Linked DNA regions of Homo sapiens. The protein of the gene in region 2 purifies or fractionates together with the protein of the main gene of each other region. This does not show direct contact. Each region holds a gene or a part of one and is shown on either strand. Other genes may lie near its edges.

Region 1 (3,749 bases), on a different chromosome or scaffold from region 2:
AAAAGGGACTGGACAATGTGAACTGTGTTTCCTGAGGGAAGAACCATCTCCCCCTTTCTCCTATCCAGCGGTTGGCTAAGTGCAACTCCCCTAAGCTCTCTGAGCACCCTGCATGTATCTGTATTTTAGCATTCACCATCCTTTTGACAATTTCCATTTAAATAACAGCTAAATTGAAAACTCCCCTAGGATGGGGACCACTCTTACTAATTTTTGCACACAGAACAGTACTTGGTCCTACCAGGTGCTCCATAAATGTTTTCTGATCTTAACTTTAACAATTTTTTCCATATTCTTTTCTATTTCTAACATTTGCTGATTAGACCTGGCTTTCCACTCCCAACATCGCTACTAACTAGCTGGCCACTCCTGGACAAATAAATAATACAAGTTTTCTGAAATTCATCTATTATAAAAAGGTGTTGAAATAGGCCTTTCTAATATTCTTTCCAGCTCTAAACAGCTTCCATGTTACAAATCAGGGTTTATAGATGGAATTACAGGTCTTCGAGAGGAGAATAGCAAATGTGCTTAGGCGAAGGGGGTGGGTGGAAAATGAACGCTTATCTTGGCACAGCAGTTTAACGAGAGGAGAAGCAAAGTTGATTGGTAGGCCAAAATTTTGAAGAACAGGAGAGGGAGGCGGGGGTGAGGGGAGTGGGGTAACAGGACTTAGAAGAGGTGGTGGTGAGAAAAAGGGGGTAAGGCAATCGATAGCTAGGTTCACCTCGATCTGTCAGAGCCCAGGGATGAAGGGATAGAGAGTCTACGGAGATAAAGTGGGCAGCTATGCTAGTTCCTGTGGATGCTAATAACAGGAGCCCCTCGTTTCTTCCTGATCCTGGAATTATTCTACAAGGAGAGGAAGGTGCTATGAAAATAAATGATGCCTCACAGGCGACAGGTGTCCCAGCGTCCCGAGACAGGAGCCCGCTGTCTCCCGCTGGAGGGGAGACTCTTGCAGGAAAGAAAGTCCGTTCTGTCGCCACCGGCCAGCTGTGCCCGAAAAGTCCCAGGAAGAAACTCTCGCTCATCCGCGGCGAGCGGATCCCGGGCACAGGGGCTGGAGGCCGACCCGGTGAGAGTGCAAGGTCTCGCGACCACCGACGACAGCAGACAGCGAGTCGGGCCTTCCCATCTGAGGCCAGCTTCAGTACAGGCCTCCAAGCCCGGGCTTGTTTTGGCCGCGACGTCACTTCCGATTTCTTCTTTCGCCTTCTGGCTAAAAAACGTTCCGCAGCAATGCAGCTGAAACTTTCGGGTTTTCTTTTTTTTGTCCCTCTCTCCTTTTTTTTAATATTTTTGTTTTTGCCGCCTTTACGCTCCGAGGCCCATCCTGCCGGAGTACTACACAGACAGGGTCATTTCAGTTGACGGTTCTGGGTCACCAGAGCAGAGGAAGCCCCAATTTCGCCCTCCGGTCACACCTCCTACTCCAGATCGCCCCGCCCACCTGACCCGCCTCTGCGCCGCCGGGCTGCGTGAGTCTCATGAGCGTGCTCTGGTACGTCATCTTCGCGCGACGTTCGGTTCGCTGTGTGTGTCGCCGGCTCCTTGAGGGTCCATGTGATTTTTACGCCAGTGCTGCTGAACTGTGCAGGGTAGGGAGCTGGCACAGTCCGATTAATTGTCCTTGGGTCGAGGTGTCTCGTCGGACCCTTTGGGGCTCAGTGGAGGTAGGTGAAGGCGGCTCCCATTGAGGGAAGCCCACACTCACACCCGGCCTTCCTGTGTTAATCTGGCATGCTCTTCTGGGGCTTCCCAGGCTATATAGGAGAGTGGCCAAATTCTTTAACCGGCTCAAGTTCCCCTCAATTAAGCTTCGACCTAGGTTCTTCTCTGCGATTACACCCTTTCCTGTCCACCGTTGTTAGTTCCCGGAGTAATCAGCAACTCTCCAAGGCAATGGACACATTTCCATCTTTGCCTTTGCTTACGAGGCTCCCTCAGGTGAAGTGAACCTAATGGAGTTTTAAAATATTTGGGAGATAAAATCAGCAGATCTTGTTAACTATTTGGATGTTAGGAGTGAGGAAGAAAAGGACACGTCAAGGCTGAGTCTAGGTTAATATCTGGTGCCAGTCACCAGCCAAAATGGAGTATATTGGAGTAAGCAAAGGCACAGACCATGTCTTTATTTCATTCACCATTATAGCCCCAGTGCCTAGAGCAGTGTCCTGCACATTGGTAGGTACTTTAATGAACAGAAGAGTGTTCCCAAAGACCAGTGAAATACAATCATTGGTCATTGTATTTCATTAAAGCACCTTTTAAATATATGTTACACCTATTTATCGTGGTGTTACTAATGTAAAGTTTTCAGGCTTTTTGGAATAGATGATGAGCAGCACCTCTGGAATCATTTACCTGATAACATTGAATCTCTTTTGCAATTGAGTCGTTCTGGAAAAATGTTTTGGCTTGATTGCATGTTATTTAAAAGTTTTATCCTATTCTGCCACTTTAGTGTTGAATTTAATTTCAGGACTGCTTTATTACAGTTTTCTTTCCTACTGTTTAAACCTTTTAAAGTAAATTTAATTTTAAGCTTCTACATTAGAATATTAGCTTTGTGTTTCTTACTTCTTGGCATTTTTAGGCTTTCAGGAAATCAAATCCGTAACTATAATTGTTATAGATTAAATGTCATCTTAAACTTGGTTTCAGGAAACTTGTATTTGCAGTTTCACCTTAATATTTCCTGTTGCCAAAAAATGGACACTCAAAGCCAGCATGATCCTTTTTGGTTTGGCTACTGTAAGGCTGTGCTAGATTTATTCCTAAGTGTTGTAAAATGGTTGGCTAGGTGTGAGAACCTTTGTGTACAGCTGAATAGATGGTGCGATATGATAGCCTTCACTTTAATTATTCCTGCTTCCTATAGATTGCCTTTTCTGGGTTAGAATTAAATGGCTTATTGGTCTCTAATCTATATACTTCCACACAGACTTTTTAAAGAAAGCAGAGTGAAAATCAACTATGTGTACAAGCTTATAATATGTATATAAAATATTTTATTTTTCAGAATTAAGGCAGAGTCACTGTAATTATTTCTAATACCAATTCCAAAATAGTGACTCTTGGACAATAGTGCAATTATATGGAATTATGGCTGGTTATAAGCCTGTAGCTATTCAGACATATCCTATACTTGGTGAAAAAATCACCCAAGATACACTGTACTGGAACAACTATAAGGTGAGTGTGGGACGTAATGAGGGAGAAGGGATTTGTGTTTATGCCAATTTCTCTAGCATATGTTATACTCTGGATGCTCTAACAGAGAATTATTAACTGAAAACCATCTATCAGCAGCTTATAGTTTGGGCAGATAATTTGATATCTATTTTTTCTTGGAATTTTATGTAAAAGTCCATACTGCTTAATCAGATTAACCATACAAATGCCTAGCACAGAACAGATGATCAATCAATGCCAAATGAATTAAATTTTAAAATTTGAATCTCATATGTGTAAAGATGTTTATTGAAGTATTGCTTGTAATAGTAGAAATCTTGAAAAACCCATGTCTATTAGTAGTGGACTGGTATAGTAAATTACAGTGTGCCCTTATAATGGATGGTAAGTCTATTGCTCCTATGAAAGCTAATATGTGTTACTAAGTGAAAAGAAGCAAGATGTGGAACAGCCTACATGGTATGATTATCTTTTTGTTATTTTAAAAGTACAAGTACGTGGTTATTGTATGCTGGTGTAGACATGATAACTTTTTTTTTCTGGTAGAAATC
Region 2 (3,649 bases):
TGAGGATGCAATTTTTTGAATTTTTCAATCAGACCTTGGTGATGACCTTGAGCAGTAGGATATAAACAACTCCCACATGCTTAGCGTTCCAATAATGGAACACTAGGCATAAATACATTAACCCATTTTTAACCCCCAAATTAAGACACTAATTTAACAAAACTGATAAACATTTAAGTACGATTCCAGATAGAGACCATGTGGGTTTTACTTCTAATCTGAGAACAGAGGAAGTGAGCATAAAGTAATCCACTTTTAACTTGTAATCAGCACAATGCCTTGTCTAATGGTAGCACAGCCATCAATAGTATAGGAATCCATTTCCAGCTGTAAAAACCTCAGAGACCACTAGAGTTCCACTGTATAAAGTTGGATTTACAATCAAAATGGATTATCTCCCAATTCTTTCCTTGGAAGAATTTCTGTTATCCTAAGGTATGATCAATCATTATACCAGCATTCTATGAACAAGCACACTGGGCTGGACACAGTGGCATACACCTGTAGACCTGTAGTCCCAGCTACTTATAAAGCTGAGGCAAGAGGATTACTTGAGTCCAGGAGTTCGAGATCAGTCTAGGTAACATAGCAAGACCCCTTCTCTTTAAAAAAAAAAAAAAAAAAAGCACACTGATTTATTATTAGCAAATACTTTAGAAAATGTGAAATGATTTGGTTTTTCATTAAAGGTTGCCATGGAAAAATAAACACTGGGGATTACACATGGGGGGATGGTGTAAGGGAAACATGGGATGTAAAATTACCTATTGGGTACTATGCTCACTACCTGGGTGATGGAATCATTCACACACCAAACCTCAGCAACATGCAATTTACCTATGTAACAAACCTGCACATGTACTCCCTGAACCTAAAATAAAAGTTGAAAAAATAAAGAGTTGCCTTGGGTAAAAAATGGAACAAAAGGAGTACACCAAAAACATAAGAATATCCTCTATAACAGATGTGGCAAAGCCTCACATAAAGTCAAGTCTCACAAAGGAAGAACAAAGGCAGCAAATGGTCTAGAGCACTTGTTCTGGGATACCTCTTGGCCCCAAATCTCACAGAGATTGTGATTTGAAGAACGAAGCTCCAAAAGACCAAATATTCAGTGTGAAACTAATTTTTAAGAAGAGGCTACCAGTTCATCAGAATTTTGGAACATACTTGCCTTAGATATTTCAGTAAGGCTATCATAATTCATTTACACTCTACAGAATAAATTGTTTCTTTTCATAATAAATATCACATTTGCATAATAATTTAAGGACTTACCTCCCATAATCGAAGAATATCTAGAAAACTAAATTCCCTTTTGAATCTGATTAAAAGCCACCTGAAGCAAAAATAAAGGTATCCAGAGTCCTGAGATTCTATGCAGAAGAAAAAAACACACATATGACTTACTCTTATGCTAATTATGTCAGAATACAGTTACTTTTCTCTAACTTTCCTATGCATCTTAGGCAATTCAAGGCCCTATACATTTGTCTTCTACGTTAAGGAATCATTTCAAACTTGAAGGCTGACTTCTTTTTAAAAACTAACAAATAATACATTTTACGAATCAAGTTTAAGGCAGAATTATACAAAGAGAGTTTGGTTCCACATTTTTATGGAACCGAAGAAAGTGCAATAGAGTATATATGTCTTTAAGTTCTTTTTTATTGAGACAGTGTCTTGCTATGTCACCCAGGTCGGAGTGCAGTGGAGTGATCCCAGTTCACTGTAGCCTCAACCTCCTCGGCTCAAGTAATCCTCCCACCTCAGCCTCTTGAGTGGCTGGGACTACAGGCATGCATCACCACAGCCAGCATTTTTTTTTCCTTGTAGAGATGGGGTCTCACTGTGCTAGCCAGGCTAGTCTCAAACTCCTGGGTGCAAGTAATCCTCCCTCCTTGGCTTCCAAAGTGCTGGGATTATAGGCATGAGCCACTGCACCTGGCTTCTTTAAAGAGTTCTTTACATTTTTTTCTATGCATTACTCTACAATTTGCTGGGTATAGTTCTGATTCACTAAACTTACCTAAGTAACTGCAAAATCCACTGTCTAACAATCGAAGTAAGGTACTCAGCTGAATTAGCTGGGTCTTCATGCCTTGCATTTGTTCTTCAAAATTCTGATGCTTTAAAAGGAAATAATTGTTACAAGTAATATTTAATAAATATTTTATAGTACATAATGACTGATAACTAAAACATGATGTCTAAGGACAAATGCTGAACTTATACCACACTGGTAATCTTAAAAAATGCGTAACTAACCAAAAATCTAACGTAACACTAAAAGGGAGGGTAAAGAGAAAGAATCCTTGCTCTCAAAACTAAGGATTATTTTTTCCTCTATTCATTTGACTTAGATAAAGAAGAATGCAGACATAGCAACTGCAGACTGACTATTTATTTCTTACACAGCATAAAAGACTTGGTGAAAGAAACACACATTTGGGAAATAAATATTTATCAAATTCTTTCCATTGTTAAATATTCCTTCAAATTATACATAATAAAATTAATTTTAGTTTTAGTATGTATTTCATTTTAAAGAATTACTTTACATTGGAGAATCTGTAAAGCCAAAACCATTTTCAGGACAATACTAAAACATTATCTGGATTTCATACTTAAATTCTTTCACAAGTGCAAAGGCTGTATGATGTGTGATACTCCAAAAGACTGAACACAGAAGCAAATATGAAAATTCAGCTGTCTTCTATTAAACCAGACATTTTTAAAAATGAAAAATTTAAAACAATCTCTTGTGTCGGTAAATTTTTCATTAGGAAAGGTTACTTTTCATTAAAAAAAAGTGATCTATGTTAAGGTAGAATGTGTTGTTATTTAATGAATTAATAAATAAATGAATACAAGTTTCTCAGTATTAATTTTTCACATAAACATCAACAGATATAACCCACATAAACAAAAACTCTTTCAGGTCTTCAATAATATTGGAGAGTGTGAAGGGGCCCTGAGGTCACAAAGTTTGGGAACTGCTGGGGTTCATATGCTTTAAAGAAACTTCATAGTTGAGTAGACTCCCTACCAACACCTGAGTCAAGGGGCCAGAAGGCACCAAAACTGATGCTCTGAAAGGCTTCTTAAATGATTTGGATCCCTTTAACTCATATGTCCCGATCCCTCTGTGGTAACCTACCGCCCTAACCCTAGTGAAAGCCTTAGAAAAACATTTCCTCCTTCACACTTACTTTTTCACTTTTACAGTACAATAGTGCTTTATTAGAACTATCATATTAGAAACAATTCATTCTTAAAAAAAATTTAAGTCTATTAATTCTCAATAAGCTGTTTCTCTTTAATGAATTTTAAAAACCAGTTTATTAATAGACTAACTCAAGGCTTTAGGATATAGTTCCTCCACATTTACCAGAGAGATCTATAGAGAAGGGGCAGAATCAACTCTGATTAACAGGATCATTTTTGCTGTGACACAGTCAAAGACTAGAGCTGATCTGGGAATACCAACATGGCATAGACATTTGCTACCCACTCTGCTGTAAAAAAGAAACATGTCCATAATGACAGACACCATATTCGAAAAAGTGGTTACTCCTGGAGAAGGGAGAGTGGGATCAACAATGGATATACAAAGGGCTTCAAATGTGTCTGTAAATAAATGTGTCTG
Region 3 (3,749 bases), on a different chromosome or scaffold from region 2:
TGCGCTGCAGGTTGGCAGTGGAGTGAGGAACGGGGCTATCAAGGGCTCTTGAGGGTTTCACCCAGACAGCTGGTGGACACGGTGCCATCCAGTCAGAGTGCCCCTTGAGACCCGAGTCTGTGCCAGGCGTGGCATAGTTGAGATACTGGTGAGCTGTCCGGCTTGGAGCCTGCAGGGAGGCCAGGTCAGGGGGCAGGGTTGAGAGCAGCCAAACACCCGGATACGGACATCAGCATTTGAGGCCGCCTGACTGTGCCCAGCTGGCAGGACTGAGGCCTGAATCCAGGGAGGGGATGAAACTCCTGGACAAGCCTTGAGTTTGGGGCAGCACACATGTCATCAGTTGTGAGCCGACCTCTTGAGGCTGATGTTGGAACAATAGTGGCCAAGGTCGGGCACGGGCTGGAAGGGCAGGATCTGCAGTCTCAGGACCCCAGAGGGCCCAGGGAGCTGTGTGTGTGCTGGGTCCTTGGGCCTCTTTGCATCAGGAGTTAGGGAGGTGCAAGTATGTGGCTGTAAGCATGGGGACATTGGGGTGGATGTTTTTGTTTTGTTCTTAGAGACAAGGTCTGGCCCTCACCCAGGCTGGAGTGCAGTGGTACGATCGTGGTTCACCGCAGCCTCAAACTCCCAGGTTCCCAGGCGATCCTCCTGCCTCAACCTTCTGAGCAACTGGGACTGTAGGCACGTACCACCACGCTGGCTCATGTTCTTATTTCACTTTCTGTGTCACTGCATTGCCCACCTCAGCCTCTCAAAGTGCTGGGATTACAGGCCTGAGCCCTGGTGCCTGGCTGGCGATGGGGTATTGGTAGAACCAGGCCTTCTTTGCTGGCCGCCCCCGGTCCTCCTGTTCACTCTGCAAAGCCCTGGAGTCTGCCAGCTGCCCCATCCTCACGTCCTCTTCAGCTGCCCAGGTTGGCTGTCCAGCTGCTGGTCTAACCTCCATCCAGGCCTTTCTGACAGTGAGGTTTAGGGGCTACCTTCCCTAGAGGACTGAGACTTGGAGGAGGGCCAGGTGGGGGCTGGGGCCCACTGCAGTGGGGGTGGGGGAGGTGTGTCTGTGTCGCTCAACATCTGCGAGTCCCCCAGGGACATTGCTTAGGAGGGCTGGCGGCTGTGGGAAAGCGGATGCTGTTTATCCCAGGATCAGCAGGAGAGCCGCCAGATAATAAGGGGATGAAGGGCGTGCCAGCAGCCGGGCCCTGATGTGGAGGTCAGCTGTGATCCAGGGACCCAGAACTCGGAGAGGAACTTTAGCAGGGGAGATGGTGTGAAGGAGACACGGCTCAGGGCAAGCGCCAGAGACCAGGAACCACTTTTTTTTTTTTAAATCTTGGGCTGGGGAAGGGGAAATAAAGTCCTTTGCGGTTTCTGAGTCCAGGGTTCCCTAGACACTGTTGCCTTTGTGTGTCCAGAAGCAATTCAGCGGTTTCCAGAGCAGCATGCTTTTGTGTTCCAGGGCTGGCTGGCCCAATTCCGTCCTGCTTGCAGAGAGGGCCTGGAGCCTGGCCGGGCGCCGCCCTGAGCCTGGGGGATCCTGGGAGAACCTGGACAGCCGTGGTGAGCCCTGCTGCCCTGCTCTGGTGCACAGGACTGGAGTCCTCCAGGCTCCAGGGCAGCAGACACCACCCTCTCCGTGCCTGCTGGTGTTGGGCGGCTTGGAGGCTATGGTTCCTGGGTCCTCGTAGCACATCCTGGTTCTGGGCCAGGACCTGAAGGAGCCACAGTGAAAGAGTGTTTCTGGATGTATCTGAGACAGACGGAGGTAGGGGGCAGGGGGCAGGGGGCAGGGGGACATGGTAGGGCCCATCTGAGTGGAAGCCCCAGCCTTGGGAAAAGCTGCTACTCTCTGGGGCAGTGGTCCCAGCTACCACGTGCTCTTCTGGAGCCATCTTGATCTTGAAAGGCAGGCTCCCTCCCAAGGCCGGGTGCAGGCCAGACCCCACCGGTAAAGCACCTGCGCAGCCCGGGGCCAGGGGTCCAGTGAGGAAGGGTGGAGGCCTCCTGAGAACCTGGCCTGGTCAGGAGGGCCGGCAAGAGGAGGAGCCTCCCAGGAAGCCCCTCAGAACCTGACAGGACGAGAGGAAGGGAGGCCGATCTGAGAGGGAGGGAGGCCCATCCGAGAGGGAGGAGGCCGATCTGAGAGGGCCGCATGGCTCGGAGTTGCAGGGGCCCTGGGCTGCCAGGGGTGGGCCTGTAGGTGCAGGTGGAGGGGCTGGTCCTGGGGAGAGCGGCTGGGCTGCAGGCTGAGGAGCTGGGCTTCCTCCAGGGACCGTGGAGGGGGTGGGGATGGGCAGCTAGAAGTGGGGAGGGCAGGGGCCGTCTGGTTGGGGATGCGCGGCTGCAGCACGCAGGACGGAAGGTGCAGGTGAGACGCAGGTGGGCGGTGTCGGGAGACCCGGGTCTGGCCTGAGGTGCAGCCTGGAGCTATGCTCAGTGTGTAGACGGGCCTTGGTTCCTGCATCTGTAAGTTGGGCGTGTGCTGGGTAATAGTGTCCTCCCCCAAAATTCATGTCCACCTCGTACCTGTGGACCCGACCTTACTTGGAAATGGCTCTTTGCAGATGTCACTGAGATGAAGTCACCCTGGTGTACAGTGGAGCACTCTTCAGTGCAGTGCGGGGGCTGCCCATGTGGCCGTGGAGGGCACCCCTACCCCGGTGCAGGCGCAGGCTGGAGGCGTAGCCCGGGCCCATCCCTGGCGGTGTGTCGCGGAGGGCACCCCTACCCCGGTGCAGGCGCAGGCTGGAGGCGTAGCCCGGGCCCATCCCTGGCGGTGTGTCGCGGAGGGCACCCCTACCCCGGTGCAGGCGCAGGCTGGAGGCGTAGCCCGGGCCCATCCCTGGCAGTGTGTCGCGGAGGGCACCCCTACCCCGGTGCAGGCACAGGCTGGAGGCGTAGCCCGGGCCCGTCCCTGGCGCTGTGTCGCGGAGGGCACCCCTACCCCGGTGCAGGCGCAGGCTGGAAGTGTAGCCCGGGCCCATCCCTGGTGGTGAAGGCTGGAAGGTCCATCCCTGGCAGTGTGTGGTGACATGTGTCGTGACATGGAGTTTGATTCTTAACTGACCGAAGCTTGAAAAGTCTGTCTTTTTGATGGACCCAGGGAGTTGGGTGAGGAGGGTGGTGGAGTCAGTGGGGCTGAGAGCAGGGTCGTCTAGGACCCTGATGTGTGGACGCCCTCCCCAAGGGCCGCTGTGAACCATCCAGCAGGATGACCCTGGGTTTGGGGCTGAGCCGGTGGCTGGGAGAGCAGACTGAGGAGTAGCTGGACACTGGCGGGGCACGCATTGCATTCTGATGGTGACAGGCGGGACACTCAGGGCCTTTGTCCCCTCTCTCATTGCCTCATTTGCTTGCCTGAGGTGATTGGGAAGGCAGCCCTGGCCTCGGAATTACAGCCTCCCAGACAAGGGGGCTGTCCTCTGCCCAGAGCCCTGCAGGCAGCCAAGAGTTCTGTGCGTGTCCAAGCGTGTCCCCTGCTTTCCTTGGGTGGAGGCCAGCTCGGTGCCCTACACAGGGCCTGCAGGCCCCAGCGCCCGGGTCATCCCCTCCGCTTCCCTCTCAGCTGCCGCAACCAGGAGGACTCGCCGGGTTTTTGAAAATGGAAGGAAGTAGGTTTTACATTGCTACACTTCCCCTAGCCCGTTCATCCTTCCTTTTTAAACATTAAAAAGCAGTAAAAATGGTGGTTACCGGGGGCTTGGGGAGGGCATGGGAGTTCCTATTCAGTGAGCAGAGTTTCAGTT

What was found.
Region 1: the proteins of TBC1D15 (region 2) and UTP15 purify together in Homo sapiens (co-immunoprecipitation; 3 studies listed by BioGRID and IntAct, with this or other methods). This does not show direct contact.
Region 3: the proteins of TBC1D15 (region 2) and GRAMD4 purify together in Homo sapiens (co-immunoprecipitation; 3 studies listed by BioGRID and IntAct, with this or other methods). This does not show direct contact.

What each region holds. Positions count from the first base shown.
Region 1 is NC_000005.10:73,564,237-73,567,985, forward strand, and holds the start of UTP15 (U3 small nucleolar RNA-associated protein 15 homolog), read left to right. Parts: upstream 1-1,506; 5' UTR 1,507-1,676; exon of another isoform or gene 1,677-1,950; intron 1,951-3,025; 5' UTR 3,026-3,108; coding exon 3,109-3,198; intron 3,199-3,749. UniProt on the Homo sapiens protein: Ribosome biogenesis factor. Involved in nucleolar processing of pre-18S ribosomal RNA. Required for optimal pre-ribosomal RNA transcription by RNA polymerase I.
Region 2 is NC_000012.12:71,916,178-71,919,826, reverse strand, and holds part of TBC1D15 (TBC1 domain family member 15), read right to left. Parts: intron 2,130-3,649; coding exon 2,030-2,129; intron 1,377-2,029; coding exon 1,279-1,376; intron 1-1,278. UniProt on the Homo sapiens protein: Acts as a GTPase activating protein for RAB7A. Does not act on RAB4, RAB5 or RAB6.
Region 3 is NC_000022.11:46,618,798-46,622,546, forward strand, and holds the start of GRAMD4 (GRAM domain-containing protein 4), read left to right. Parts: upstream 1-1,588; 5' UTR 1,589-1,768; intron 1,769-3,749. UniProt on the Homo sapiens protein: Plays a role as a mediator of E2F1-induced apoptosis in the absence of p53/TP53. Plays a role as a mediator of E2F1-induced apoptosis in the absence of p53/TP53. Inhibits TLR9 response to nucelic acids and regulates TLR9-mediated innate immune response.